Regions from separate parts of the Homo sapiens genome. Here regions 2, 3 and 4 are each linked to region 1. Evidence: fine-mapped expression QTL. A gene starts in region 1. Each other region holds a variant in brackets. All regions are shown on one strand. Distances are between the middles of the regions. Region 1 holds the start of GRAMD4 (GRAM domain containing 4). Region 2 overlaps GRAMD4 (GRAM domain containing 4). Region 3 overlaps GRAMD4 (GRAM domain containing 4). Region 4 has its middle 39 kb from the start of LINC02925.

Evidence for each region. PIP is the estimated chance that this variant, and not a neighbour inherited with it, causes the effect.
Region 2: its variant is the best candidate, but not a certain one, in a credible set for the expression of GRAMD4 in thyroid (GTEx, PIP 0.90).
Region 3: its variant is the best candidate, but not a certain one, in a credible set for the expression of GRAMD4 in fibroblasts (GTEx, PIP 0.81).
Region 4: its variant is the best candidate, but not a certain one, in a credible set for the expression of GRAMD4 in whole blood (TOPMed, PIP 0.76).

The regions. Positions count from the first base shown.
Region 1 is chr22:46,616,148-46,623,273 of GRCh38, forward strand. GRAMD4 (GRAM domain containing 4) reads left to right here and starts at 4,239. Exons shown (of 19, transcript NM_015124.5): 1 at 4,239-4,418. RefSeq lists enhancers at 2,271-3,038, 5,467-5,978.
Region 2 is chr22:46,653,799-46,660,924 of GRCh38, forward strand. It overlaps GRAMD4 (GRAM domain containing 4), which reads left to right. Exons shown (of 19, transcript NM_015124.5): 4 at 4,389-4,509. Among named protein-coding and RNA genes, the nearest start is that of GRAMD4, 37 kb to the left of the region's middle. The variant G/A (reference allele first, on the strand shown) is at 3,470.
Region 3 is chr22:46,671,802-46,678,927 of GRCh38, forward strand. GRAMD4 (GRAM domain containing 4) reads left to right here. Exons shown (of 19, transcript NM_015124.5): 14 at 1,042-1,196; 15 at 1,869-2,013; 16 at 2,856-2,949; 17 at 3,667-3,751; 18 at 4,799-4,867; 19 at 5,346-7,126. The coding sequence ends at 5,450. Among named protein-coding and RNA genes, the nearest start is that of GRAMD4, 55 kb to the left of the region's middle. RefSeq lists enhancers at 2,402-2,481, 2,682-2,831, 2,872-2,931. The variant A/C (reference allele first, on the strand shown) is at 4,162.
Region 4 is chr22:46,576,531-46,583,656 of GRCh38, forward strand. It overlaps a transcript of GRAMD4 not described here. Among named protein-coding and RNA genes, the nearest start is that of LINC02925, 39 kb to the left of the region's middle. RefSeq lists a silencer at 518-717 and enhancers at 5,318-5,397, 6,116-6,215, 6,752-7,126. The variant A/G (reference allele first, on the strand shown) is at 3,223.

The DNA.
Region 1 (7,126 bases):
CCCTGTGTGTGTAGGTTCCCCTGTGTGTACGTTCCCCTGTGTGTACGTTCCCCTGTATGTACGTTCCCCTGTGCGTGTAGGTTCCCCTGTGCGTGTAGGTTCCCCCGTGCGTGTAGGTTCCCCCGTGTGTGCAGGTTCCCCTGTGTGTGTGGCTTCCCCTGTGTGTAGGTTCCCCTGTGTGTGTAGGTTCCCCTGTGTGTACGTTCCCCTGTGTGTACGTTCCCCTGTGTGTAGGTTCCCCTGTGCGTGTAGGTTCCCCTGTGCGTGTAGGTTCCCCCGTGAGTAGGTTCCCCTGTGCGTGTAGGTTCCCCCGTGTGTAGGTTCCCCTGTGCGTGTCGGTTCCCCCGTGTGTAGGTTCCCCCAAGCGTGTAGGTTCCCCCTTGTGTAGGTTCCCCCGTGTGTGCAGGTTCCCCTGTGTGTGCGGCTTCCCCTGTGCGTGCAGGTTCCCCTGTGTGTAGGTTCCCCTGTGTGTGTAGGTTCCCCTGTGTGTACGTTCCCCTGTGTGTACGTTCCCCTGTGTGTAGGTTCCCCTGTGCGTGTAGGTTCCCCTGTGCGTGTAGGTTCCCCCGTGCGTGTAGGTTCCCCCGTGTGTGCAGGTTCCCCTGTGTGTGTGGCTTCCCCTGTGCGTGCAGGTTCCCCTGTGTGTAGGTTCCCCTGTGTGTGTAGGTTCCCCTGTGTGTACGTTCCCCTGTGTGTACGTTCCCCTGTGTGTAGGTTCCCCCGTGTGTAGGTTCCCCTGTGCGTGTAGTTTCCCCCGTGTGTAGGTTCCCCTGTGCGTATAGGTTCCCCTGTGCGTGTAGGTTCCCCCGTGTGTAGGTTCCCCTGTGCGTGTAGGTTCCCCCGTGTGTAGGTTCCCCTGTGCGTGTGGGTTCCCCCGTGTGTAGGTTCCCCTGTGCGTGTGGGTTCCCCCGTGTGTAGGTTCCCCTGTGCGTGTGGGTTCCCCCATGTGTAAGTTCCCCTGTCCGTGTAGGTTCCCCCATGTGTAGGTTCCCCTGTGTGTGTAGGTTCCCCCGTGTGTAGGTTCCCCTGTGCGTGTAGGTTCCTCCGTGTGTAGGTTCCCCTGTGCGTGTGGGTTCCCCCATGTGTAAGTTCCCCAGTGTGTAGGTTCCCCTGTGCTTGTGGGTTCCCCCGTGTGTAGGTTCTGCTGTGCATGTAGGTTCCCCTGTGTGTACGTTCCCCTAAGCATGTAGGTTCCCCCGTGTGTAGGTTCTCCCATGTGTGCGGGTTCCCCTGTGTGTGCAGCTTCCCCTGTGCTTGCAGGTTCCCCTGTGTGTAGGTTCCCCTGGGTGTAGGTTCCCCCCATACGTGTAGGTTCCCCTGTGTGTAGGTTCCCCTGTGCGTGTAGGTTTCCCCGTGTGTAGGTTCCCTTGTGCGTGTAGGTTCCCTTGTGCGTGTAGGTTCCTCTGTGTTGGGTCCTTAAACATTAACCAGCTCCTTCCTCCCCAGGCCTGGGCAGGATCCCAGCACACAGAGGAAGAAGCGGAGACTCACGTAGGCATCTCCTGGCCCTCCCAGTCTTCCTGACTGTCTCTCCTGGGCCACGCTGGCAAGTGGCCCCAGAGCGGGCCATACACCGTGCTGGCATTAGCACCCCAGGGTGTGCTTAGCCCTGGGCCCGCTCCCTGGCCCCCCTGGGTGGCTTCCCTGTCACAGTGCAGAAGGCTCAGCTCCCCACATGGGGTTCCAGCCTGACCCTCGTATGACTCAAGCCTGAAGATACTTTGCCAAGGGAAGGAATTCAGGTTTCTTCCTGGAGAAACATCCCAGATCACTGAAGGCTTGTAGTTAAAAGTTTTTGTGTATTCAGGGACGCTGTGCTTTGGCAGGGCCCAAGGCAGAGTCCATGGGTGTCCCTAGTCCATGGGTGTCCCTTTCTCTTGAGGCCTCTGGCAGAGGAAAGAAAGCTCAGCTGGTGGCTGCGGGCTCAGGCTGGCGGGGACCCCCCAGCCGTGGCATCTGGGCTGCCTTTGTGTGTCGCTCCCTCACTCTCTGAACAAGTGTTTGTCACTGCCCACCACGTGCCAAGCTCTGCAGAGGGAGACTCGGGTGCCTGCAGCTCGAGTCCACCTGAGCATCACCGGCAGAGCCGAGCCCCTGGAGACTTAGCCAGACACAGCCCCTGCCCCGGGGGAGCACCAGGCGGGTTCTAACCAAGCAGGACTGGAGGCACAAGCGCTAAACAAGGAAGCCATCAGGGCAATCCAAGGACCCCACGTCAAACCAAACAGGATGGTGGAATGACAGCGGGCGGCGCCTAGGGAATGGGGCAAATGAGCGACGTCCCGGAGCCAAACGTGTCGGGCCCTGCAGTGGGGACAGAGGCGGTGGTCGGAGGGTTGCAAAGGGGGTCGGCAGAGCTGCAGCCAAGCCTAGATGAGCCAGAGCTGATGAGGGTGTCGGGGGAGCAGCCGTGTTGACCCGGGTGCGTGGAAGCCCCTGGAGAACTTTGGCAGGGGCGCTGCAGAGGCTGATTTTGCCTTTGAAGGCCTCACCATGCTTGCCATGTGGAGAAGGCTTCGGGAGGCACGCGGCTGCCTGGACCAGGCTGGGGTGGTGGGGAGAGGGGAGGCACGCGGCTGCCTGGACCAGGCTGGGGTCGTGGGGAGAGGTGGACAGATGTGCAGCCCCGTCTGGAGGCGTGCGGCCGGCGTGCGCTGCAGGTTGGCAGTGGAGTGAGGAACGGGGCTATCAAGGGCTCTTGAGGGTTTCACCCAGACAGCTGGTGGACACGGTGCCATCCAGTCAGAGTGCCCCTTGAGACCCGAGTCTGTGCCAGGCGTGGCATAGTTGAGATACTGGTGAGCTGTCCGGCTTGGAGCCTGCAGGGAGGCCAGGTCAGGGGGCAGGGTTGAGAGCAGCCAAACACCCGGATACGGACATCAGCATTTGAGGCCGCCTGACTGTGCCCAGCTGGCAGGACTGAGGCCTGAATCCAGGGAGGGGATGAAACTCCTGGACAAGCCTTGAGTTTGGGGCAGCACACATGTCATCAGTTGTGAGCCGACCTCTTGAGGCTGATGTTGGAACAATAGTGGCCAAGGTCGGGCACGGGCTGGAAGGGCAGGATCTGCAGTCTCAGGACCCCAGAGGGCCCAGGGAGCTGTGTGTGTGCTGGGTCCTTGGGCCTCTTTGCATCAGGAGTTAGGGAGGTGCAAGTATGTGGCTGTAAGCATGGGGACATTGGGGTGGATGTTTTTGTTTTGTTCTTAGAGACAAGGTCTGGCCCTCACCCAGGCTGGAGTGCAGTGGTACGATCGTGGTTCACCGCAGCCTCAAACTCCCAGGTTCCCAGGCGATCCTCCTGCCTCAACCTTCTGAGCAACTGGGACTGTAGGCACGTACCACCACGCTGGCTCATGTTCTTATTTCACTTTCTGTGTCACTGCATTGCCCACCTCAGCCTCTCAAAGTGCTGGGATTACAGGCCTGAGCCCTGGTGCCTGGCTGGCGATGGGGTATTGGTAGAACCAGGCCTTCTTTGCTGGCCGCCCCCGGTCCTCCTGTTCACTCTGCAAAGCCCTGGAGTCTGCCAGCTGCCCCATCCTCACGTCCTCTTCAGCTGCCCAGGTTGGCTGTCCAGCTGCTGGTCTAACCTCCATCCAGGCCTTTCTGACAGTGAGGTTTAGGGGCTACCTTCCCTAGAGGACTGAGACTTGGAGGAGGGCCAGGTGGGGGCTGGGGCCCACTGCAGTGGGGGTGGGGGAGGTGTGTCTGTGTCGCTCAACATCTGCGAGTCCCCCAGGGACATTGCTTAGGAGGGCTGGCGGCTGTGGGAAAGCGGATGCTGTTTATCCCAGGATCAGCAGGAGAGCCGCCAGATAATAAGGGGATGAAGGGCGTGCCAGCAGCCGGGCCCTGATGTGGAGGTCAGCTGTGATCCAGGGACCCAGAACTCGGAGAGGAACTTTAGCAGGGGAGATGGTGTGAAGGAGACACGGCTCAGGGCAAGCGCCAGAGACCAGGAACCACTTTTTTTTTTTTAAATCTTGGGCTGGGGAAGGGGAAATAAAGTCCTTTGCGGTTTCTGAGTCCAGGGTTCCCTAGACACTGTTGCCTTTGTGTGTCCAGAAGCAATTCAGCGGTTTCCAGAGCAGCATGCTTTTGTGTTCCAGGGCTGGCTGGCCCAATTCCGTCCTGCTTGCAGAGAGGGCCTGGAGCCTGGCCGGGCGCCGCCCTGAGCCTGGGGGATCCTGGGAGAACCTGGACAGCCGTGGTGAGCCCTGCTGCCCTGCTCTGGTGCACAGGACTGGAGTCCTCCAGGCTCCAGGGCAGCAGACACCACCCTCTCCGTGCCTGCTGGTGTTGGGCGGCTTGGAGGCTATGGTTCCTGGGTCCTCGTAGCACATCCTGGTTCTGGGCCAGGACCTGAAGGAGCCACAGTGAAAGAGTGTTTCTGGATGTATCTGAGACAGACGGAGGTAGGGGGCAGGGGGCAGGGGGCAGGGGGACATGGTAGGGCCCATCTGAGTGGAAGCCCCAGCCTTGGGAAAAGCTGCTACTCTCTGGGGCAGTGGTCCCAGCTACCACGTGCTCTTCTGGAGCCATCTTGATCTTGAAAGGCAGGCTCCCTCCCAAGGCCGGGTGCAGGCCAGACCCCACCGGTAAAGCACCTGCGCAGCCCGGGGCCAGGGGTCCAGTGAGGAAGGGTGGAGGCCTCCTGAGAACCTGGCCTGGTCAGGAGGGCCGGCAAGAGGAGGAGCCTCCCAGGAAGCCCCTCAGAACCTGACAGGACGAGAGGAAGGGAGGCCGATCTGAGAGGGAGGGAGGCCCATCCGAGAGGGAGGAGGCCGATCTGAGAGGGCCGCATGGCTCGGAGTTGCAGGGGCCCTGGGCTGCCAGGGGTGGGCCTGTAGGTGCAGGTGGAGGGGCTGGTCCTGGGGAGAGCGGCTGGGCTGCAGGCTGAGGAGCTGGGCTTCCTCCAGGGACCGTGGAGGGGGTGGGGATGGGCAGCTAGAAGTGGGGAGGGCAGGGGCCGTCTGGTTGGGGATGCGCGGCTGCAGCACGCAGGACGGAAGGTGCAGGTGAGACGCAGGTGGGCGGTGTCGGGAGACCCGGGTCTGGCCTGAGGTGCAGCCTGGAGCTATGCTCAGTGTGTAGACGGGCCTTGGTTCCTGCATCTGTAAGTTGGGCGTGTGCTGGGTAATAGTGTCCTCCCCCAAAATTCATGTCCACCTCGTACCTGTGGACCCGACCTTACTTGGAAATGGCTCTTTGCAGATGTCACTGAGATGAAGTCACCCTGGTGTACAGTGGAGCACTCTTCAGTGCAGTGCGGGGGCTGCCCATGTGGCCGTGGAGGGCACCCCTACCCCGGTGCAGGCGCAGGCTGGAGGCGTAGCCCGGGCCCATCCCTGGCGGTGTGTCGCGGAGGGCACCCCTACCCCGGTGCAGGCGCAGGCTGGAGGCGTAGCCCGGGCCCATCCCTGGCGGTGTGTCGCGGAGGGCACCCCTACCCCGGTGCAGGCGCAGGCTGGAGGCGTAGCCCGGGCCCATCCCTGGCAGTGTGTCGCGGAGGGCACCCCTACCCCGGTGCAGGCACAGGCTGGAGGCGTAGCCCGGGCCCGTCCCTGGCGCTGTGTCGCGGAGGGCACCCCTACCCCGGTGCAGGCGCAGGCTGGAAGTGTAGCCCGGGCCCATCCCTGGTGGTGAAGGCTGGAAGGTCCATCCCTGGCAGTGTGTGGTGACATGTGTCGTGACATGGAGTTTGATTCTTAACTGACCGAAGCTTGAAAAGTCTGTCTTTTTGATGGACCCAGGGAGTTGGGTGAGGAGGGTGGTGGAGTCAGTGGGGCTGAGAGCAGGGTCGTCTAGGACCCTGATGTGTGGACGCCCTCCCCAAGGGCCGCTGTGAACCATCCAGCAGGATGACCCTGGGTTTGGGGCTGAGCCGGTGGCTGGGAGAGCAGACTGAGGAGTAGCTGGACACTGGCGGGGCACGCATTGCATTCTGATGGTGACAGGCGGGACACTCAGGGCCTTTGTCCCCTCTCTCATTGCCTCATTTGCTTGCCTGAGGTGATTGGGAAGGCAGCCCTGGCCTCGGAATTACAGCCTCCCAGACAAGGGGGCTGTCCTCTGCCCAGAGCCCTGCAGGCAGCCAAGAGTTCTGTGCGTGTCCAAGCGTGTCCCCTGCTTTCCTTGGGTGGAGGCCAGCTCGGTGCCCTACACAGGGCCTGCAGGCCCCAGCGCCCGGGTCATCCCCTCCGCTTCCCTCTCAGCTGCCGCAACCAGGAGGACTCGCCGGGTTTTTGAAAATGGAAGGAAGTAGGTTTTACATTGCTACACTTCCCCTAGCCCGTTCATCCTTCCTTTTTAAACATTAAAAAGCAGTAAAAATGGTGGTTACCGGGGGCTTGGGGAGGGCATGGGAGTTCCTATTCAGTGAGCAGAGTTTCAGTTAGACAAGACGAGTCCGGAGGCAGCCGCTCAGCATCACAGATGTAATTTATGCCACGGAGCTGCACGCTAAAAACTGGTGAAGTTGGGCTGAGCACGGCGGCTCACGCCTGTAATCCCAGCACTTTGGGAGGCCGAGGCGGGTGGATCACGAGGTCAGGAGATTGAGACCATCCTGGCTAACATGGCGAAACTCCGTCTCTACTAAAAATACAAAAAATTAGCTGGTGTGGTGGCGGGTGCCTGTAGTCCCAGCTACTCGGGAGGCTGAGGCAGGAGAATGGCGTGAACCCAGGAGGCGGATCTTGCAGTGAGCCGAGATCACGCCACTGCACTCCAGCCTGGGCGACAGAGCAAGACTCCATCTCTAAAAAAAAAAAAAAAAAAACTGATGAAATTGGTAATATTTATATTATGTGTGTTTTACCGTAATTAAAAAATATTGTGGGAAAAGAAGTAATAGGGAGGCATTTTAGGAGATTTGGAGAGAGAATTGTTAACGACCACCGTAAGCCCATACTCCCGACGTCTGGCCCCATAGCGCCCGAGTCTCTTCACGCACCTGTTTGCCATAACGACAGTCACAGGAAGGTCCCGGTTTTAGTTGCCTTCATCCCTTTACAAGGACGGGGTCCTGTGTGGGTCCACCAGGGTGCTCCAGGACCCCCTGCCCTGCTGGTCTTGATGGATGGTGTGTGACGTGTTTCCCCCCACCAGGCCTCCACTTCTT
Region 2 (7,126 bases), 38 kb after region 1:
GTTAACCTGGGAAAGTACCTGAGCCTTCCCGCCTTGGCCTACTCCGCCCAAGAGGCCTGCCGGGAGCAAGCCTGCCCAGTGTGACTTGTCTCACCTCTGTGTTCCCACGTGATAGAGTCACTGCCACAACATGAAGACAGAGGCATGAGATGGAAACACCCCGTGGCTCTCTCTGAACCCTCCCCAGCTGGCTCCGAATTTGGGACTGAGCCAGGCGGACGCTCCCTTTGGGGAGAAACACCGGCTGACGGGGCATTTGGTTCCTTCCTTCGCTTATCCAGTGAGCCTTGATTAAGCCCCTTCTGTATGCCAGCCACACCGAAAGAGGGGCCAGGAGGCTGAGAATCGGGTCTGTTGGAGGTGGCTGGGGGGTAGGGTGGGAGGGCAGCATCCATCTCAGGTGGGCCAAGATGCCCAGGCTCTCCTGGCTGTCAGTGGGCGTGTGACCCCTCGGAGGAAGGGTCCCCAGGCTCCTCCTGCCTTGGGGCATGGACCCGCCCACCAAGGGCTTCAGGGCCAGCCCGGGCTCACGCAGTGGGTTCACATGCTCCATGCTGCTCTTGGGGACCCACCCAGGCACCCTCTCAGGGCAGGGTGTTGTCCCCTCTGTTCATGGTGGTGTCCCGGCGCCTTGGCAGAGCCCGGCGTGTGATGATTACCTGAGTATTTCTGACGAAGGTGTGCCAGAGCCGGCCCTCAAGTGGCTCCACGAGGGCGGGGGGCTGGGGGCTCGTGCCACATGCAAGGTTGGCAAGGGGCTGGGTGGAGGTCCCTGCAGGGGGTGGGGTTTGTGGACTGATCCCCGTGTTAGGGCTGTGACACCGAATTCCCAAGTCCCCGCCTGCCTCCACTCCGTGCACGGCCCGCTGGTCAGCACATCTGCCCTCCCTGCTAGACGCACTACGTGAGAACTGGCCAAGCTCCCCTCCCAACCACTCTCCCTTCCCCACATCTTGCTGGTTTCTCCTTGGGCCAGGCTGGGTCTTGGGGCCAGAACAGATGGTGACACCGGGGTGGTCCCTCCTCCGGAACCTGTGGGGTGTGTTGGGCACAAGTCAGGGAGGCCTGCAGGTAATGGAGGCTTGGAAACGTCACACTGTACCAGGAGGTTGTGTGCCATTTCTGGGAATCCCCACCCAGCACACGGAGTGGGAATCATGTCCCCAAGAGGAAAGAGCAGGACCCGTGAGAGAAGATGACAGAAGGCTACGCCAGATGGGGGGGCTGTTGGGGAAGTCACTCGGGGAAGTGGTATTGGGGTCAGGACTGAGGCTGAGGGACAGCTTACCCTGGAGGGTGGAAGAGAAGCTTCCTCGGGAGCAGGGCCAGCACATGCAAAAGTCCTGGGGCAGGCCCGACCCTCGGCAAATCTGAATATTTTCTGGACATTTGAGGACCTAAAAGCAGGTCTCTGTGGCTTAAGCCCAAAAAGCAAAGATGAGGGGTGGTGTGGAGGGTGCTGAGGCTGGGAGTGGGTGGGTGGGGGCCTCGGGAGGGAGCTTCAAGCTGGGAAGTTGGATTCATTGCCAGCCCGGTGAGGAGTTCTAAGCGGGAAAGCAACAAGTTCTGGCTTGTGCTTTACAAGCAGCCTTGGACCTCAGCTTGGAGCCGGACGGGAGGGTGTGCCAGGAGCTGGGAGGCCGGTTAAGAACATGGGGATGGGGCTGGGGCAGCTGAGAGACCAGCAGAGTGGATGGATCTGGGATCTTGGAAGAAAGAACCCCAGATGTGTAGGGGGTGAAGGGCCCCCGCCCAAATGTGGCTGGCACTGCTCCCCTCTGCTGTAAAGGAGCCAGCCGGCCGCCCAGAGAGGGCTGGGGGGTAGCTCCCTCAGCCCTGGAGACGTGTCCCCCACAGCCCTGGGTCAGGGGCCCTGCAGCTCCTGCCACCTCCTTCCTGCTGCTCTGAACTGGAGCCCCAGGCCGGGCTGGACCCTGCCCCTAATTCTGACCCAGAAGCCTCCCCAAGGCCCTAGGCAGAGGCCACCTGCCTCCCTTCTGACCCCGCCTTTGCTCAGCTCCGGGACTGAGCACTTGGTACCTTGCAGCCTGTCCTGAGCCCTGGGGAGGCACCGGCTTCAGCTAACGCTCTGCCTGGCCATGTCAGCGGGTCGGGGACCTCCGTCCGCGGAGAAAAGTAGCCGTGCCAGGGCCAGACGCTTCTCCCCAGAACGGAGGCGGGGCGGGGAGGGGGAGCTCTGGAGGGAACCAGCCTGATGAGACTGGGCAGCCCGCAGGGACAGGCCCAGTGCCCCCCACCCCAGCCTCCACGGGGAGGGTCTTCTCCAGGCCAGCTCAGCTGCCCTGGGGGGCTCTCGGGAGTCCAGGATGCTGAAGGACACTGAAACCATGCTTGGAGAAGGGCCGATCCCAGCGGGCCGGGGAGCAGGGCAGAGCTCCAGCACCCACACTGGGCAAGTGGATCCTGGCCCTTGGTAAATTCGAATATTTTCTCTCTGGTTAGTAACAGCGAGTAACAGCATCCAGCACCCCCAGTGGGAGTGGGGCTGGTGAGATGCAGGTGCCTGTCTCTTCCCTTTTGGGTACCGTGAGCCTGTGGCTGCCGGGCAGGAAGGTGTGCTGACCTTTGGCTTCTGGGTTTACTGACCCTAGTCCACCCGCGGCTGCTCCCTGCCTGGGCACGGCCCCCTGCTGTTTCTGTACGGCTACTCCTGGACATTGGCTGGGACTGGGGCCTGAGGCTGTCATACTGCCCTTGGCCCCAGTTTTGGAGTCTTAGGTATGGCCCTGTGGCCCCAAGTCATGTGGTGAGGTGTCCAGGACAGGAAAGGAAGCTACTGGGGTCACTCCCACCCTACCCAGAAAGAAACTTCCAGGCTTAGAAGCCTGCCTTCAGCCTTGGGCTGCTGGCCAGACCCCCAAGGGTTCCTGCCTCACGCTGGTGGGGTCTGGCTGCTGGCCCTGCCCAAGAACCTGGGTGAATTCATCAGCCACGTTCCTTTGTCTCAGGAATATCTCCTGGGACTCCAGCAAACGCTCTTCTCCTGCTGCCATTGCCATTTTATAAGGTCTCAGCGTGTCCGCCCCATGGTCAGTGTGGTCTGTGCAGTTGAAGTCGAGGCTGACTGATCTGGACCCTCAGCCACCATAGGCCACAGCCAGCCCTCAGCCACCATGGGCCACAGCCAGCCCTCAGCCACCATAGGCCACAGCCAGGCAGCCTTCTGGGGAGAGACAGCACTTAGGTGACCCTCAGCTGGGTTCTGCAAGCCACTGCTGCCCCGTAAACCAGCATTGTTCCACCTGAACTTAACCGTGACCTTGGCCCTGGGGCCACCTGCCTGAGCCTGTCAAGGAGACAGGGTTGGGCTGGGCAGGGGACACCACACAGAGGAGGGTGGATGGGCTGGGGTGGGGAGCGCCTGGGCAGGGTCTTGTCAGTGGCCCAGGCCTCTGAGAAGGACCGAGGACCTGTGGGCGTTCACAGGTGCCAGCTCTCTGCTCTCATC[G/A]GTCTGTTGCTCTTGTTCTTCATGCGTGGAGCCTGTGCCAGGCCCTGGGAGGGCAGTGGGGGAGAAGCAAGGGCCTCAGGCTTGCCCTTAGGTGACCCAGCGGTGTTGGTTTTAGGAGGAAGAGGCAGGGATGGGGCAGAGGAAGCGGGAGAGAGGCCGGGTCCCCGTCTCTCCTGTCTTTAAGTGGTAGAAGTGTCCTGACTGCCAGAGGCTGCCTGCACTCCCTGGCTCCTGGCCCCTTCCATCCTCAGTCTTCCAGTCTCTCCGACCTCTGACCTCTGACCCTGCCTCCTCCCTCTGCCTGGATGCTCTTTCCCAGGGTCTGTGGCCTCGCTGTGTTCCCTCCAGGCCTTGACTCAGAACTCACCTTCTCCCGAGGCTTTCCCAGAGCAGCCCTGTGTCCAGCCTGCCCCGTGCTCTTCTCAGGCCCCCTGGCCAGCTTGAGCTGTGGGCTGTCCCCGCTGGCCCAGGGCCTTTGCTCTGCTGCCGACGCGTCCCAGAACCTCACCCAGCACATGGAGGCGCTGGGTGGGTGTGGTGGGCTGGCCAGGTGTGGTCAGCGTCCTTTCCGCAGGTGTCCTCAGCGTGGCGGTGCTTGGTGAAATGGCTTTTGTGTTCTGTGTTGCACTGTTATGAAGCATAGTGAGGAAATTCACACCCTTGCTTCACCCACCTCTTGCCCCAGTCATGTAAGAGGAGCCCCGTTACTAGCTCCTGCCCAGGAGGAAGGGCTGGATGGGGACCAGTTCATGTCCTGCTGTGAGCGCCCCGCACCCTGGAGGAAGGTCAGGTGCTCAGGTCCGCTTACGGAGCAGAGACCCCTCTGCTGTTTCTGAGTCAGGCACCCCTGCCCCAGCATCCCAGAGTCGGGGTCGCGTGGACATGAGCGATGGTCACCTGGCCGTTCTCTCCCCCATAGAGGAGGAGCTCCGGAAGCTGCGAGAAGAAACCAACGCGGAGATGCTGCGGCAGGAGCTGGACCGCGAGCGGCAGCGGCGGATGGAGCTGGAGCAGAAGGTGCAGGAGGTGCTGAAGGCCAGGTACCGCGCCTTCCTCGGGGCCCTGGCCTGTGTGCGGCTGCCCCAACCCCCCACCCCACCCGCCCCGCCGTCCTCTGCTGCACCCATAGCGTCTTGGCAGCATCATTCTTGGCCCTGGAGAGGCCTGAGTGTGAGGGTGGGCCCGGCTCTGACTGCCCAGGTATAGGTCCTGCCTGTGCCTGCATGAGCTGTGGTCTTGGGAATGTGTCATCTTCCTGTGCCTCTGGCGGTCTGGAAAAGGGTGCACAGGTGCTCCTGCCAGCCCCCAGGCCTGGGGCCAGGCCAACTGAAGAGAGGCTTGGCATGGGGCCTGCAGAGCCCCAGAGCCACCTCATGGCTCTGATCCCGGCCTGCTGGTGACCCCATTCTGTACATCCACCCAGTGCCCCACCCCGGGGGCCAGCCCGGCCTCTTAGGATCTTCCCAGGACCTGCCTTCCCAGTGCTGCCTGTGCGTGTTCCCATGCCCCCTGTCTGCCCCAGCCACGCTGTGGCCCCCGCCCCCCTGCCCCCATCCTAGCAGTATCATGTCCTGGGCGCCAGTGCCGCCCTGGCTCCTAGAGAGGCATGTCTGCACCTGACATCTTTGCTCTTGTTTGTGGGTCCCATGTGGGACCCTGAGTGCTCACAGTCTCCTCCCTCACCCTGCCCTGCGCCTCACAGTGCCGCCAGCAGGAAGCAGGTCATTCAGGACCCCAGCGCAAGTTACAAAGCCAGTGCCCTCCTGTCTCGCTAACACCACGAGGCTCCGTGTCCCTCTGCACAAGTTCAAACTGGTGCCTGGTACATGAGGCCAGGGAGCTCAGGCCACTCACCTCTGGCTCCCAGGCCTCCCGCTCAGCCTCCACTCCAGCAACCTCCTGCTTCGGCCTCCCTCTCAGCCTCCACTCCAGCAGCCTCCTGCTTCGGCCTCCCTCTCAGCCTCCACTCCCTCAGCCTCCCCCCTCAGTCTCCACCCTCAGTTTCTGCCCAGCCTCCCCCCAGCATCATCTTCAGCCTCCGTCCTCAGACTCCACTCCCTCAGCCTCCCCACTCAGGTTCCACTCAGCCTCCCTCCAGCCTCCACTTAGCCTCCCTCCAGGTCTCCCACCTCAGCCTCCCACCACCATTGGCCACACCTTTGTCTGTGGCCCCCATGACCTGCATGGATGGCTGTCACCAGTTAGGGAGGCACACGGCATCTCTGGGACACCCCAGCTGAGCACTGCCTGCTATGAGCGCTCCGGGGGCCGTGTGTCATTGTCAGGACTCCAAGTGTCGCTGCTTAGCTGGCCCTGAGGAAGCGGCTCCCTTCAGCACCCTCAGGTTTAGTGTGTGGGAAGACGGGGGATCCGCTGGGCTGACTCCCACTTCTTCCTTGCCCGCCTCCTGCAGGTCAGCATGACCTTGTGGAGTGCCCTGGGGGGCTCATGTGGGGGCTCATGTGGGGGCATCCAGCTGGTGTGGGGGAGGGAGAGGCCTCACTTTCCTATTCCGCCCTGGCAGAACCTCCCAGACCAGAAATGGGTGCATGGGCCTCGGCAGGCGCTTTACCTGATGCTGAACCTTCTGGGAAAATCCACAGAAGCTCAAAGCTTAAATTACATTTAATTATGTAGAGTTGCAACAGAGACCTGACCTGCCACGCTGGGAGATCCCAGGGACAGGTGCGGTCCCCAGGCATTTGGCCACAGTGCCATCCCCGCCACGGGACGCTGCTTCTCCCCCGGTGGCTAAGGTGGCCTGAGGCTGTCCCCGTGGCCCTGCTCCCTGTGTTCTGTTTCCCATCCTCTCACTCCCGCCAGCCCCACTCCAGGATCTGGTCCTCATCTTTTACCAAAGCCCCTTGGTGGCAGGTGTGCCCAGCCCGGGTCAGCTGTAAGAACGCAGGGAGCCCCATCTCGCACAGTCTCTGCCTTGGGAATGGGTGGGGAATGGGCAGTGAAGGAACATCCAGGCTGTGACCCAGGAAGTGGAAGCTGAAGGTCCTGGGAGCATTAAGGGCTCTCCCCTGCTTTACATGGGGGCGGCGCTTAGGAACCTTCTGGAAGCCTGAAGGAGGAGGGGTGAAGGAAGAGCAGTCCCAGGCAGAGTGACCTCCTCTTTCCTTGTCGTCCTGGTGCAGATCTGGGGTGGGTCTGGGTGGCTGTGGTCTGTCCAGGGTGGGTAGGTGTGTGAGGGCACACACAAACATGCAGACACATGTGCGCACACACTGCACACACACATACCACACACTCTGAAGCTGCAGGATTAAAGCACAGCAGTTCTGTTTATGCAAACCTCTATTTTGGTTTTTAAGAAAATTCTCAGAAAGTCACCTTGGTTTAAGGCTACTTGTCAGTAGGCAGAGATTCTCTCCATTGTGGATCCAAAGTCCCCTGAAAACCTCACTGTCTGCTTCCTGCCCGCTGCTTACCTGGCCGTGCCCTGTGTGCCCTGTGCTCCGCCCTCTGTTCTCTTCTCAGGGTTTACTCCTCCCCCAGCTTCCTCCCTCCCCACTCCCGCTTCCCAAGAGTTAGGAAGGTTAGGGGCGACCACACAGCACTTGGCCCGGTTCTGTGCTGCACCTGCTCACAGGCCTTGGCTGGAGGGGCTGGGTGTGGGACGGAAGCAGACCCTAGTGGCCGTCTAGTGCC
Region 3 (7,126 bases), 56 kb after region 1:
CCAGCCTGGGCAACAGAGCAAGACTCTGTCTCAAAAAAAAGAATCAACAAGTTGAGAATTGGGGTCAAAAAGTCTGACTTGATTGATGAATTTCTGTGAAAATGTCCTACAAAGGCAAAAAATGAAACAAAGGCACAGCTTTATCAGTCCCTTTATAGCACAGATAGTACATGGAACTCTGACCCTGGGGCCCCTGCAGGGAGGGCCTGCCACGTCTGGTCTGGTCTGGCGGGCTGTGCACTGGGGGCAGCGAGACAGCCCCCAGCACTGGGAGGGGCACCCGGAGAGACCGGAACTCCTGACAGCTTTTGCTGCCCAGGGGGGTGCGTTAGCAGGTGTGTGGGGGCCGGCCCCGCCTCCCATCCCTGCATCTGTTGCCAGGTGGGGTCCTGGGGCGCAGTCAGGCCTGGCTCTTCTGAGGTCGTGTTTAGTAGGGGGACTGACCATGATTGTGTCAGGTGACAGTATCGGGGAGAAAACGGAGCTGGTGGAGGGGAACTTGCGAGGGCGTGGCTGGGAGCCGTCTGAGCAGCTGGTCATGGGCGGCCTCTCAGCAGGGATGGGCTGGGCGTGGGGGGGCACCCAGTTGAAGAAGGGCAGGTGGGAGGGGGTTTGGGGAGGGATTGCCATGGAGGGACCTCAGATTTGGTGTCAGGTGTGGGGAATTGGGGCAGAGGAGGCACAGTCCTGAAGTGTTTCAGGTGGGTCAAGAACAGCCCTGAGCCAGGCGGAGTTGGAGAGAGAAGTGAGGGGCATTGGATGGGGGGGTCCTAGCAGAGCTGAGGGGTCTTAGTGGGAGTGGGTGGGGCGCTGGCAGTGGGGCCCTCGCCTGGGGTTGAGACTGTGCAGCACGAATGGGCCCCAGGGGAGCGAGGCTGGGGGTATCCAGGGTGAGGACTGAGCGAGCAGCTGGACTCTCACATCCAGGCTCAGGGTGGAGGGTGCCAATCTGGGAGGTGGGAGGTGCCGGAACCATCACCCTGAGTAGACTGGCATAGCTGCAGAGCTCTAGATGGAGCAGGCTGTGTCCCCTGCCCTCAGGACTCTATGCTGGTATCAAGTTCTTCCTCATTGATTTCATCTTTAAACGCTGCCCGAGGCTGCGCGCCAAGTACGACACGCCCTATATCATCTGGAGGAGTCTCCCCACCGACCCGCAGCTCAAGGAGCGCTCCAGCGCCGCAGTCTCACGCAGGGTGAGCCCGGCCCCCAGCTGCGGGGATGGGGGGATGGGGGGCCACGAAGCCGGGCATCCCCAGGCCCACAGTGCTCTGTTCACCTCCGGCTCATTTAGAGGCTGTTTCTTCAATTTTATAGACTCCTTAAACTTGAGGGTTTTTTTTTTCCCTGTTACCACTGCGGTTTCTGAGGCTCATCCAGCCCCTCCCAAGCCCAGGGCAACACCTGGGGACTGGCCATGATGACTGAGAGCCAGCAGGCCTGGGAGTGACCACTCCATGGGGGTGCCCGGCCCCTGCCATCCCTGACAGTGAGGCTCTGGCGCTGAGACCAGGCAGTTTGAGAAGGGCCCCCTTGGAGCCACAGCCTGGCACTGGGCCATATTTCATTCACAGTCACAGGCCCTCCAGATGTGCAGCACAGCATCCCAGCCAGGACCACGGGGAATGAGCAGGCCTCGGTGCTCCCTTCGGGGTGGCTCAGATGAGTCAGGAGGGTTGCTGGGCTCTCCCCACTGAGGTGAGGTGGCCCTGCCTGGAAGAAGGAGCCGCTCTGGGCCGGAAGGGACCTCGGGAACGTCTTCCCAAATTTGGATCCCAGCTTTTGGGGAGGTGTGTGTGCGGCCAGCACATCTGGGTGCTGCAGGCGTGGGCAGCGGGCCTGACCTCGACGCTGTTTGCCGTTGGCAGCTGCAGACGACCTCGTCACGGAGCTACGTACCCAGCGCACCGGCCGGCCTGGGTAAAGAGGAGGACGCCGGTCGCTTCCACAGCACCAAGAAGGGCAATTTCCACGAGATCTTCAATCTGACAGAAAACGAGCGTCCGCTGGCGGGTATGTGTGCCGTGAGTCTGAGGCCAGGCCGAGCGCCGACACAGACTGAAGGCCCGTGAGGGGGGCGCTGTGGATGCAGGACGGGGTCGCCCTGTGACAGGCCAGAGGAGCCCTCAGGATGGCATTCACATCCCACTGCCCCAGGAGGAGTGCAGGAGCCAGGGGTCATGAGGACTCTGCGGGCTACAGGGGAGGAGGGCGTGCCCGTGGGGAGAGCCGCCCACGCTGCAGCACTCCCCTGACAGCAGGCGTGCAGGCAACACACTGGGGAGAGAGTCCAGGGCGAGGCCTCAGGGCCTGCAGGGCGCTGGCAGGGGGTCTGCCCCTGGTTCCATCGTGTCTGGAGAAACAAGAGCCACCAGGGGACAGGTGACTCAGGATCCTGGGGACAGGTCAGCTTTCCCAAAGGGAGGGCCTGTTAAACTAAACCGGGCAGCTCGAGGTGTGTGATGAGCGGCTGCAGAGGCAGCTGCGGAGAACGGAGCTTCGTCCTCTGCTGAGCCCTGGCCCTGCCGGTCTTGGTGGAGGTGGTGTCCCAGCGCCCTGACCCTGCCGGTCTTGGAGGTGGTGTCCCGGCCACACTGTGACTTCTGTTGCTCCCTGCTCTGCCTGGGTGCTTTTACTTTAAAAACCCTGCCAGTGCCTGTTGAAGAGGAAACATCTGTTTTCCACCCTCTGGGGCCACCTCACTCTTGCCGGCGCGCCTTCCTCTCACTGTGGGTGTGACGTGAGCGCGGTGGGCGGATGTCAGGATCTGAGAGTCAGGCTCCTGGGTCCCAGCGTCAGGTCAGAGGCTGGGTACTTCCAGTGGAAAGTGTGACAGGCGGGCCTTCTCCCATTAGTGTGCGAGAATGGCTGGCGCTGCTGCCTCATCAACAGGGACCGGAAGATGCCCACGGACTACATCAGGAACGGGGTGCTCTACGTCACGGAGAAGTGAGTGCAGCCGTGGGGCCCTGTGTGGCTGCAGGGGAGGGGGCGCAGGAGGCTGCCTAGGCCCTGGGATGGCGTGGCTGGCCCAGTGCAGGTTTTCCTGAGTGGTGGCCATGGCCTCTCCCATGCTCTGCTCTTGCCGGCTGTCTGGGCTCCCAGGGAAAAGGTGTTGTCTCCAAGCCGGACGTGGCCTGGGCTGTACTGCTGCCATCCCTCAGGCTGGCGGGGATGCTGTCTTCTCTGGGGCCCAAGCAGTTCATGGAGACGAGGGGCAGAGTCTCCCAAGGAGGGGACCGTGTGGGGACCTGCTATTGCTGAGGCCCTGAGTCCTTGTTGCCCTGAGTGCCTCATGCAGAGCAGTGGCCGTGAGTGTCTCACTCAGAGCAGTGGCTGTGAATGTCTTATGCAGAGCAGTGGCCGTGAGTGTCTCACTCAGAGCAGTGGCCGTGAGTGTCTCAGAGCAGTGGCCGTGTCTCACTCAGAGCAGTGGCCGTGAGTGTCTCAGAGCAGTGGCTGTGAGTGTTTCACACAGAGCAGTGGCCGTGAGTGTCTCATATAGAGCAGTGGCCGTGAGTGTTTCACCGGTTCTGTGTCTGCTGGGAAGGGAGCACCACTGTCCATCCCACTGGGGGCTGAGAGGCAGCCCCGGGAGACCCCCACCTGGTGGGAGCGTGCTCTGGTTCAAGAGCCAGGCGACGCCTCTGTCCGTTCCCCTTCCAGTTACTTGTGCTTCGAAAGCTCCAAATCTGGGTCCTCAAAGAGGAACAAAGTCATCAAGCTAGTGGACATCACGGACATCCAGAAGGTTGGTGCACCTACCCACCCCCACTAACCCCCGTGTTTTCTTCGTCACCTGACAGAGGCTGGCGAGGCTTTCCCTATAGACTTCTGCCAGCCTCTGTCAGCATCTGGGCGCCGCGGCCACGCTGGCCGGCCATGGTCCGTTTCCTTGACTTGAGTCCCCATGTCCCTGTGGGTCTGCCCCTGCCCTGGGGTCCACTTGCCTGGACCGTGTGTCTCAAAGTGGAGGGGCTGGGTTGGAGCCCAGGAGGTCAGGACCCAAGCCCCACTCTGGCTGCTGTGTTCCCCTCGTATCTGGGACCCTCCCCATAAAGAAAAGCACAGGGGCCCTGAGCCCCTGCCTCGGATGCAGGTTTTCAGGTGGGAGCTCAGATGGTCGCGCCCGCTCTGGGCATTTTCTCAGCATTTTACCGT[A/C]GCATGGAATGAGCAGGTGGGCGTGGCCACAAGTGCCTGTGGTCCCTTGTTTTCTGGGGCAGGGAAGGCTCAGTGAGGCACTGGCAGGCACACTTGGCCCGAGTGGTCAGGGCCCCCAGCTCCCTCCCAGCTCCGAGCGTCCTGGGCATGTCCGCATTGGCACGGCGGGCACTCCCGGCCCCACGGCAGTTGTGGGTCATCTCTCCCACCCGGCTCTGGAAAAAAGCGTGCAGTCAGGTGACCAGAAGGGGTGAGTTCAGGGCTGGGGTCCTTTCCGCCTGCCTCTTGGGATTGGCGGTGCTGACAGATGGCCCTCCTGGTGCCAGGCCCTGAGAGCGAGTTCTGGGGCTGAGTGCCTACCGTCAGCCTCCTCAGGCCGGCTTGTCTCTGACCTTCCTCAGGCCAGCTGGCCGACGGTCTGGGCTGGGGTGGGACAGACCCTTTACAGGTCTGGTGTCTCGGCCACAAAGTGAGGAGGTGTCCACAGGCCCTTACCTTCTGTTGTTTGGAAGTCCCAGGTGCCCGTGGGCCCTGCTGCCTGTGTGCCCAGTGGAGGAGGATGCCCTGGGCCTGTGGAGGGCTGTGCCTCCCTGTCCCCAGGAGAGACCTGTGGTGACGGCCACGCTTTGCCTTTCAGTACAAGGTCCTGTCTGTCCTCCCAGGCTCAGGCATGGGGATTGCCGTGTCGACGCCATCCACCCAGAAAGTAGGTGCCGGGCGGGGGGCCGCCAAGGGGTTGGTGTGGGCCCAGGGGCCTGACTCTGAGCAACCCTGGGACCAGCGTGGGGCAGACAGCCAGAGTTTTAGTTTGGGCAGCAGGGTCACAAAGCCGCCCCCTCCCTCGCAGCAGCTAGAGCCTGGGGCTGCGTCCAGGTTGGGTTGGAAATCTTGCTGGGGCCATCGAGTCACCGGACAGACAGGGATGTTGGGCACAGGGGTCCCCTGACTCAGTGACTTGGGAGGAGGGAGGCACGGGGCTAAAGCCTGGCTCCCCTCTGCCTCTTGGCTCTGTTCCCCTGAAGGCTGGAGCCTGGCTCCGGGTGGTGGGGAGACACCTGTCTTTTGCACCCAGACCCACGTGACTAGCGTGCTGGCCTGGGGCTGGTGTTGGACTTCGTCTCGGTCCTGGTCCTGGCGCCAGCCTGGCTGTGCCATGCTCACTGGTGGCATTTCTTCCCTGCCAGCCGCTCGTGTTTGGTGCCATGGTGCACAGGGATGAGGCCTTCGAGACCATTCTCAGCCAGTACATCAAGATCACCTCAGCGGCAGCGTCTGGCGGGGACAGCTAGTATTGACTTGCCCAGGACGTTGCTGGAATTTTCTTTTTCTTTTTCTTTTTCTTTTTTTTTTTTTACGATTTGGTAGTGGAAACAATTGGACATCCTCATGAGCTTTTGCAATAATTCTCCTGGACCTGTGGTTCTATTGTGTTGACCTCTGCGTTTTATCGACCAAGAAGGGGCCAGGGCTCACAGGGACGGGGGTGCCCCTCTCCCACAGGGCACGTCAGGTGCCTCTGAGGGCCACCCGCAGACTGGGGGAGGGGGCAGAGGCCCTCGGGGGCCCGTGGAGAAGACACACAGGACCCCTGGCCCTGCCCTTCTCCGTTCCAGCCTGGACAGAGAAACCTCTCCAGCCACCCCAAGAGGTTCTCGCAACCTTGTGTCCCGCTCTCCAGAGGCCAGAAGCTCGTCCACCACCAAAGCCATAGCTGAAGAGTGCGGGGCCCTTCCTCCTGGGGACAGAAAGATGTCGTCAAGGAGGGACATGGGGGCCTTTCACCAACCACCGAGAAACGGGCCTGGCGGCCCTCCTTCCTCTTACATGAGACCCTCCTGTGGCATTTGCCCTTGGTGCCGGGCTGGGGCCGGGCGCAGTGACCCTGCCTGCGCTCCACACTCGCTCCACGGGAACAGAGAGGGTGAGAAGGGCCCACCCCTCGCCTGCCCTCAGTGTCTTTGGTGGCACCTTCCTTGCTGGCCTCCAGGGCGCTCAGCACCGCGTCTGTAAGGGCCTGCCTGCTGCTCTCGGCCTGACACGCCGGCCAGGAGGTCTGTAGCTGGGGACCAGTAAGGGCACAGGATGGTGCAGGTAAAAGCACATCTTTCTCACACTTTGCTCTTTGGAAGGCCCAGGAGAACATCCGCGAAGGCTGTTGGAGGTGCTCCGAGCACTGTGGCATGTCTGGCACATGGCCCCCAGGCTGCGGTTGCCTGGGTTGGTTGGGGGAGGAAGTGGGGAGGAGTGTTCCGGGACCATGGTGGCCCAGGCTGCAGCCGCCTTTGGGCCATCCGAGAGGCTCTGGCAGCCCCTGTGCTTTAGGGAGCAACCGTGAGCCGAGCCCAGAGGCCTGGGCCTGCACTGCCTGCAGCCGACATGCGACAGCGTTCCCTCCCCCGCGTGCCTAGCCGGTGCCGGTCCGGGCACAGACCCCCCCAGCCCCCGCCCTGCCCCAGGGAAGCCTGGGCTTCCCGGGAACAAGGTGGCATTTGTGGAGGGAGCGCCCGCAGGCCTGGTCTGCTGGGGCCGCCTGCGCTGGGCTGAAGGGAGGGAAAGGCGGCTTGGGCCTCCTGGAAGGAGGTGGCCACCCCGCGGGCCTGCGTGTCTGCTGGGGCGGATCCCGCAGCTCCCTCAGCTTGTCCTGAGTCCCTTGGGTGTCGTTGAGATTGTTGTTTTTTGAAGAAACAGAAGATTCTATTTTTTACAGCGAGCAAGCTGGTTTTCTTATTTTTGTATCCTTTTTCAGATGTAATTTTTATCTTTGCTCCGATCCTCATTTGCTGGTGTGGGTGAGGGATCCGGCGGCATGGGCTGGTTTCACCCCCTTCACGAGGGGCCGCAGAGTCACACGCTGGTGCCGGGGGTGCTTTGGGGGGAGCTGCGCCGATCACCAGATTAAGCACATGTCCTATCCCAGGCGGTGGAGCGGAGCCCCCGTGGCTCTGGACTGCGCGGACGTTGGCGT
Region 4 (7,126 bases), 40 kb before region 1:
GGGACAGACAGCACCCCGGGCACCTTGGGATGGGCGCGCCAGGTACTGCGCGAGTCTAGCGGGGTTCGTGCTGCGTCCCGTACAGCGCGGGCTGCAGGTCCAGCCCCGGCGTGGGGCCGCGTCCGGCGCCCCGCGAGGCGGTCGAGGAAAGGCATTTCCACCCGGGACGCGGGTTTCCACCGGCAGCCCAGTCCCTGACCCATCTCTAGAAAGGCGGGCGGTCCCGCGGGGCGCGGGCGAGGCCACAGCAGCGAGCGTGCTCCCGCGGGTGAGCCCGTGGCGTCCGCCGTGGCAAGCGCGCGGACGGCGTGGCCGTGGCCGGCGGCGGCCGCGCGTGCGCGTGGGTGCGAGCGGCGGGGGCGCACGTGGCCACCCAAACAAAGGCCGCGCCGCGTGACCGAGCTGGCGCACGCGGACCCGCCAGGGCAGGCGCGCCCCCGCGGACCCCCGAGCCGGCCGCGGGGCGGGGGCGGGGCCGGGGTGGCGCGCGGGGCGCGGCCCCTTTAAGGTGCGGCGCGGGGCGGGGCGGCGGCTGCGCAACGGGGCCGGGGGCGCGCAGACTCCGCGCAGCGGGACGCGAGCGCGCGACCTGGCGCCGCCGCCGCCTCCGCGCTCGTGGCCGGGACCCGCGGGGCCGCCTCCTCCCGGCTCCCCGGCGCCGCTGGGCTCCCGGGCGGGCGGCAGGCGTAGCGCGGCCGGGCGGCCGGCGAGGGGGGCGCCGCGGCGGGTGGATGAGAGTTGGCCCCGATATCCGCTCAGGGTAAGCGGCGCGCGCGGACACCCACCTACCCCGACCTGGTTGCCCCGCGACCACTCTCCCTTTTGGGCTGGCGGCTCGCGACCCAGCTCACTCGGCCGCGCTCTCCCCGCCGCCGCCGCCGCCGCCCGGGCCCGAGCCGGCGACCCTCCGAGCAGGGCCCTGCGCGGGCGCGCCCCGCACACGCCCCCGGGTCCCGCGCGTCACGGCTGCTCCCCGCGGGCACCTGCGGCCGCAGGTCCGGGTTCTGCCCGCCGGCTGGGGGAGACGAGGACATCCCGGGGTTGCGGGGCCCGGACTGGGGTGGGGGTCGCCGGACCGGGGGTCACCGACGCTGGGCCACTGGAGGGGGACGGTATCGGCCCGGGCCCGCCAATGTCGTCCTGCCGATCCACTCCCGGGTGGGACGGGAGAGGAGGAGGGCGCCCCAGCCCCTGCTTCCCTACAGACGACCTCTCCAAAAAGTTGTGGGCGCTTGTCCCCTCCGTGCACCCCACTTTCTGCCCTGTCTTCTCTCCCTTTGTTCGGGATGTTGAGCTCATGGGGCTCTGCTGGGGCGGGCTGGCACCTTGGCTGTAGCCCAGGCCCGTGCGCCTGCCAGAACGTGGGGTGCAGTGTGGCAACCCCGGCCCGAGGCCCCACATGTCTAGAGCAGGACCTGCACCCCTGCCAGGTCCTGGACAAGGGAGGGAGGAGAGCCAGTTTGTTCTCAGCCGGGTGGGCTGGTGCCCCTGCCCTGTTGGCTGTGTGGCAGAAGGTGCAGCAGTGCCCCGGGGCCAGGGACCTGAGTGTGACTCCCCCAGAGCCAAGTCCACTTTTTCGGCTATTGTCAACCCTGCATCTCCTGAGGTAGGAAAGATTCGGTTTGGGGGAGACCTTTTGCAGGATGGGGTTCCCTTCTTGCCTGCCTTGTGTGGGTTAGGAAGAAAATTCAGAGGTGTCTCTCCTACATGCCAAAAAGGAGGTGCCTGAGTCCCAGCCCAGTGCAGCCCTGCCCTGGTGCTGGGCCTGGGAGGGAGGTCAGGGTCAGGGCTCTGTTGCCTCAGAAGTCGAGGGCAGCACTCGAGAGAGGAGTCTGGGACTTGCCTCCCTCACCCTCCTGCTCTGTGACCTTGGGCAAGGTAGTGAGCCTCCTGGGCCTCAGTTTCCTCACTAGCAAGTGGGCAGGGGCAGGTAAGAGGATCGAATGGGGTGATGTGGGCCTCCTCAGGCTGGGCTCGCCCTGGGTTGGGGTTCAAAATGGGTTTAGGAGGTCAGTCATGGCCTCTGCCCCGGGCGCTGTGGCTGAGCCTGAAGTCTGAAGTCTGTCTTCCTGACTTTTGTGTCCCAGGCCCATTTGGGGATGCACAGTCTGGCCAGGGTGTGTGTTCAGTTGCTGCCTCTGCCCCGTGCTGGGGTGAAACCACGTTCCCCTGTTGTTAGCTGGGACTCCCCAGATGAGTGACCTCAGTAACCCTGCCCCTCCTTCCTGCTGCACACCCTTCCGAAGACCCCTGCCTGGTCCAGGAAAGGGGCCCTGCCTGTCTTGCCTTGCTCCTGCCTTGGCAGCCATGTGGACCCTTCTGCAGCACTTTGTGGTCCCGGGGCAGACCTCGAAGCCCCACAGTCCTCACCGTGCTGGGCTCACAGGGAGATGCAGCTTGGTCCTGGAGCCTGGGAAATTGGGCACCTGGGGTCTCAGTGAGCCACCAGCCCTCTGCTCTGCTGCTCTTTCCTCTCAGCTGCCCCTATGGCTGATGCGTGGAGTGCGGCTGTCCCAGCCATGCAGCCTGGGGGCAGGCGGGGCCTGTCCGGTGATGTCTGTCTTGCACTCTGGAGAGCACGGGAAAGTCTCCAAGTTGTGGTGTGTTTCCACATAGCCCTGGGAGGCTGTTTATTCTGGGTCTCCTGCTGAGGGAGGTGGAGGACCCTTCACTGGGAAAGAACCAGGTGGTCTCTCTCCAAACCACCAGCCTTCCAGGCCTTCCCCTTAGTACCCTCCTCTTATCTGTGGAGCCCGGCGCCGGCGTTAGGTGATCTTTGCTCTCCGCTCTCCCAGGCTTCACCTTCACCAACTGGAAAACGAGGGAGGAGAATCAGAGCCGGTTTTCCTGAATCACCATTTCTGCTGTAGAATAGAATAGAATAGTGGTTCAGGCTCAATGAAAAGAAAGTGTTATTGGAGCCTAGTGAGCCTCTGCTGCCAGGGAGGGCTGCCAGCCTGAAGCCTGTTTTCTCTTTGGAAGGAGTATCAGAGCAATGTTAGACATGTTACAGAAACAGCAGCACCCCACTTGACGGGTCCTGGTGACTTTCCTGTTATGGGAGAACCTGGGGCCCCGATAGTCCCATGATGTGATCTGTGTTAGTGATTGTGCCATCCGTGTGCCCCCTCCCCTCCCTGGGGGCCACATGAAGCCCCCTTCCATCTCCCCATGTTTCTCTGTTTGGGTATTTCTCTCCGGTAGCCGAATCTACTGGGGTTT[A/G]TTTGGCATTGGGGTTCCAGTCCTGTCATGACAGGGCTCCGGCCAGGGGCTCATTTTAGGAGGCTGCCCCATCTCGGGGAGCTGGGGAGGCGTCCCTGTATGTGGGCTTCTGTGTGTCAGGTTTGGGGTCTCCTGCCTAGTGGCCATGGTGGGGACTTGGGTATTTACAGAGCTCCTGTTGGTGTGGGCGTGTGCTGGCTGGGAGGGAAGACACCAGGGACTGGCTGGGTGGCCTGGTCACCCCCTGCCTGAGTTCCTGCCTCCTCCCCTGCAAGGCGGCCCAAGAGGCTGCTGCCTGGCCTCTTTAGGGGTAAGGAGACTGTCTCTGCAGAAAGCCCGGGGCAGCAGGGACAGTGTTGGGGTGTGTGGCAGAGCATCCCTGCTCCGACAGAAATTGACAGTGAATTGAGGGAGAGAAGCTGTGGCCGGGTTTAGTGAGTAACAGGCAGAAGGCAGAGGGTGCTCGCTGGGAAGCAGCGTCTCTTGCCTGGCTTGGAGATGGTCATCTGCTGGGCGCCTCCGAGGCCAAGTGGACCACTCACAGTGCTTTCGAAGGCCTCTGGTTTGGGCATCCCACAGGCTGGCTTGGGGTCTCTTTGGCACCACGGTGGGTTTAGATCTGCCTTTTCTTTGCCTTTTGGTGGCACAGCAATGGTCCTGAAAAATACTGCTTGTAAAGGAGTAAAAGTTCAAGTCTTCCACCGTCAGGTGTGGCTGGGGGGTCTGAGAGGAGGCCTGGATCTCCCAAGGGGACAGTTATGTGAACAGAGTGTCACAGGCCTAACCCAGCCCAGCGGGTGGGGCCCAGGCCAGCCTGTCACCTGCTTGGAGCCCTTGGCTGCTGGGGATATGTAATAGTTTAACTTGAGAACTTAGAGGCAGGTCACTCAGACTCTTAGAGACAGAGGTGGCGCAAGAAAATGTGGGTTTCGCCGGGCGCGCTGGCTCACGCCTGTAATCCCAACACTTTGGGAGGCCGAGGCGGGCAGATCACCTGAGGTCGGGAATTCAAGACCAGCCTGACCAACATGGAGAAATCCCCACGTCTACTAAAAATACAAAAAATTAGCCGGGCGTGTTGGCGCATGTCTGTCATCCCAGCTACTTGGGAGGCTGGGGCAGGAGAATCGCTTGAACCCGGGAGGCAGAGGTTGGGGTGAGCTGAGATCGCGCCATTGCACTCCAGCCTGGGCAACAAGAGCGAAACTCCATCTCAAAAAAAAAAAAAAAAAGAAAGAAAGAAAAAAGAAAATGCGTGTTTCCCTAATTGGAGAAAGCCCTGTTGTTTTGCCTTTGGTATCTCGGCATGTGGCAGAGGCCTGGGCGGACACTTTGGGCTGGTAATTCGCCACTAATGACAGTCCCGTCTACAGGGCTACTGTTCTGATTGTTTGGTGTTTGAGTTATAACCTAGGGTTGTGATTATGTTTAAGCCCAGTGATTAAAGTCCCCTGTGGTTACACAGGAAAGGCAGGAAGTACCGGCCTATCAAAAACATTAATAATAGTAATAGAAATCACTCATTCTGCACAGCAGGCCTGCGCTGAGTGTTTCACACGAATTGTCTCAACCAAGTCTGCAGAGCACACAGCTTCACCCCATTTTACAGATGAGGAAACTGAGGCACCGGGAGGCAGTGCCACTTGCCTAAGTCCCCAGTTCGTTCCCGAGCAGAGCTGGGATTTGCACGTGGGTGGCTTTGCCCCCAAGGCTATGCTCATAAACATTGCAGCCTTTCTGCCTTCCTGATAACCCTCCTCTAAGGGGGGTTTTGTGAGAGAAATATCAGCAATAAACTCAAAGTCATGATGAGACTTCTCTTTTTGCTGTCAAATGTGCAGTAAATAGCAAGATTCGGACAGCATGTCCTGCTCAGGGCCAGACAGCCCTCTAAGCATGAGACATGATTTATTTTCGTACCAACTGGAGGTAGGTGCTCTTGTTAGCTGCATTTCACGCAGGAGGAAGCCCTGGCACAGAGCCACAGGTTGCTGCGTGGTAGAGGTGGGTTTGGACCAATGGGCTGTGCTTCTAACCTAAGCCCCATATGCACGGGGGTTGGGCGGAGAGCGTGCTTGATCTTGCTGCTGTGTGTTCTTGGGCAAGACACCTAACCTCTCTGGGCCTCAGTTTGGTCACCTGTAAACGAAGGCCTTGGCCTAGGGTATAGAAGCCAGAGCTTGAGAGCTGGCTCTGGCCTGAGATGGCCGCGTCTGCACCACCTCCCACAGGGAGGCCCAGGTGGGTGGAGAGGCCTGGCTGCCACTTCCCTAGAGGAAGCAGGTCTACTGAGGAGCAGTGCTGGGGCCTTGGCTGGGGCTGGGTGGGGCTGGGTGTGGAGGCCATGGGTGGTCGAGGAGTGAGGGCTTCTGGGATGCACTTTGCAGTGGCCGAGTCACTGCCCTCTGTGAAGTGAGGTCCAAGGAGGCAGAGCGTGGGGCTGCTGGGAAACCGTGAAGCTTTGTGCTTGGTGAATTGTTACTTGTCCCTGGGGAACAGGAGGGACAAGAGACTCTGCTTGGGACTCTGTGCCACCAAACTCCCGAGAAGCTGCAGTGGGAGAAGCTGAATGCTGGGCAGCGGGCGGTTAGGAGGCTCCAGGAAACGGCTCAGCCTCTCTTGGTGGGTTCCCCTGCCGGCCGTTCCTGGGACCTCTCTGCTCCACGTCCCCCCTCCAGGGAGGCCTCCCATGAGTGCCCCAGCTGTGCCTCTGCTGTCACTGCTCTCCTCTTCCTGAGGTTCTTGTTTGTCTACTGTTTACCACGCTTCCCTTCTAGAAGGTGGGCTCCTGAAGTTAGGGGTCTCTGCTCATGTCCAGCGACCTGGAGCGGCACCTCATTATGCCTGGTATCCTGGGACCCTGGCTCGGGTCTGAGCTGGGCTGTGGAGTTGGGTAGGGCCAGGAGCCAGGCTGGGAGTGAATTTGTTTGTTCCTCACTCTTGGTGTTGACCTTGGCCACCTGGCTGAGGTGTGTTTGTCAGCGTCTTTATTGAGGTGTAATTCACACATCATACAACACACTCATTGAAAGTGCACAGTTCACGGACTTCTAGTACATTCACCAAGTTGTGCAGCCATCACCACAATCGAAACCCAAACAGGAACCTGGGCCTTCTAGACACTTTAGGCACTCCCTGGACCCTTCCTCCCTGCCTGTGGTGACCACCTTTCTCTCTCTTTTGTCTTTTGAGATGGAGTTTCGCTCTTGTTGCCCAGGCTGGAGTGCAATGGTGCGATCTCAGCTCACCACAACCTCCGCCTCCCGGGTTCAAGCGATTCTCCTACCTCAGCCTCCCAAGTAGCTGGGGTGACAGACATGCACCACCATGCCTGGCTAATTTTGTATTTTTAGTAGAGATGGAGTTTCACCATGTTGGTCAGGCTGGTCTCGAATTCCTGACCTTAGGTGATCCATTCGCTTCGGTCTCTCAAAGTGCTGGGATTACAGGTGTGAGCCACCACACCCAGCCAACTCTATTTTTAAAAAACTGTTTTAGATTTATAGAGAAATTGCAGAGATAATACAGAGTTTCCCAATTATCCCTACCAACAGTTGCAGTTTGTCTGGTGATTAACATCTTACATTAGTATGATAGGTTTGTTACAATCCATGGACTAATATTGATACATTATCATTAGCCAAAGTACATAGTTTGTTCAGATTCATTAGGTTTTACCTAATGTCCTTTTTCTGTTCCAAGACTGCATCTAGGGTCCCAGATGACATCTAGCTGTCATGTCTCTCTAAGCTCCTCTTTGCTATGACAGCTTCTCAGACTTTTCTTAGTTTTGATAACTCTGACAGTCTTAAGAAATAGTAGGTGTATTGTGGGATCTCCATCCATTGGAATTTGTCTGTTTGAACAATTGGAATTCCTCTGTTGGAATTTGGATGTATTTCTC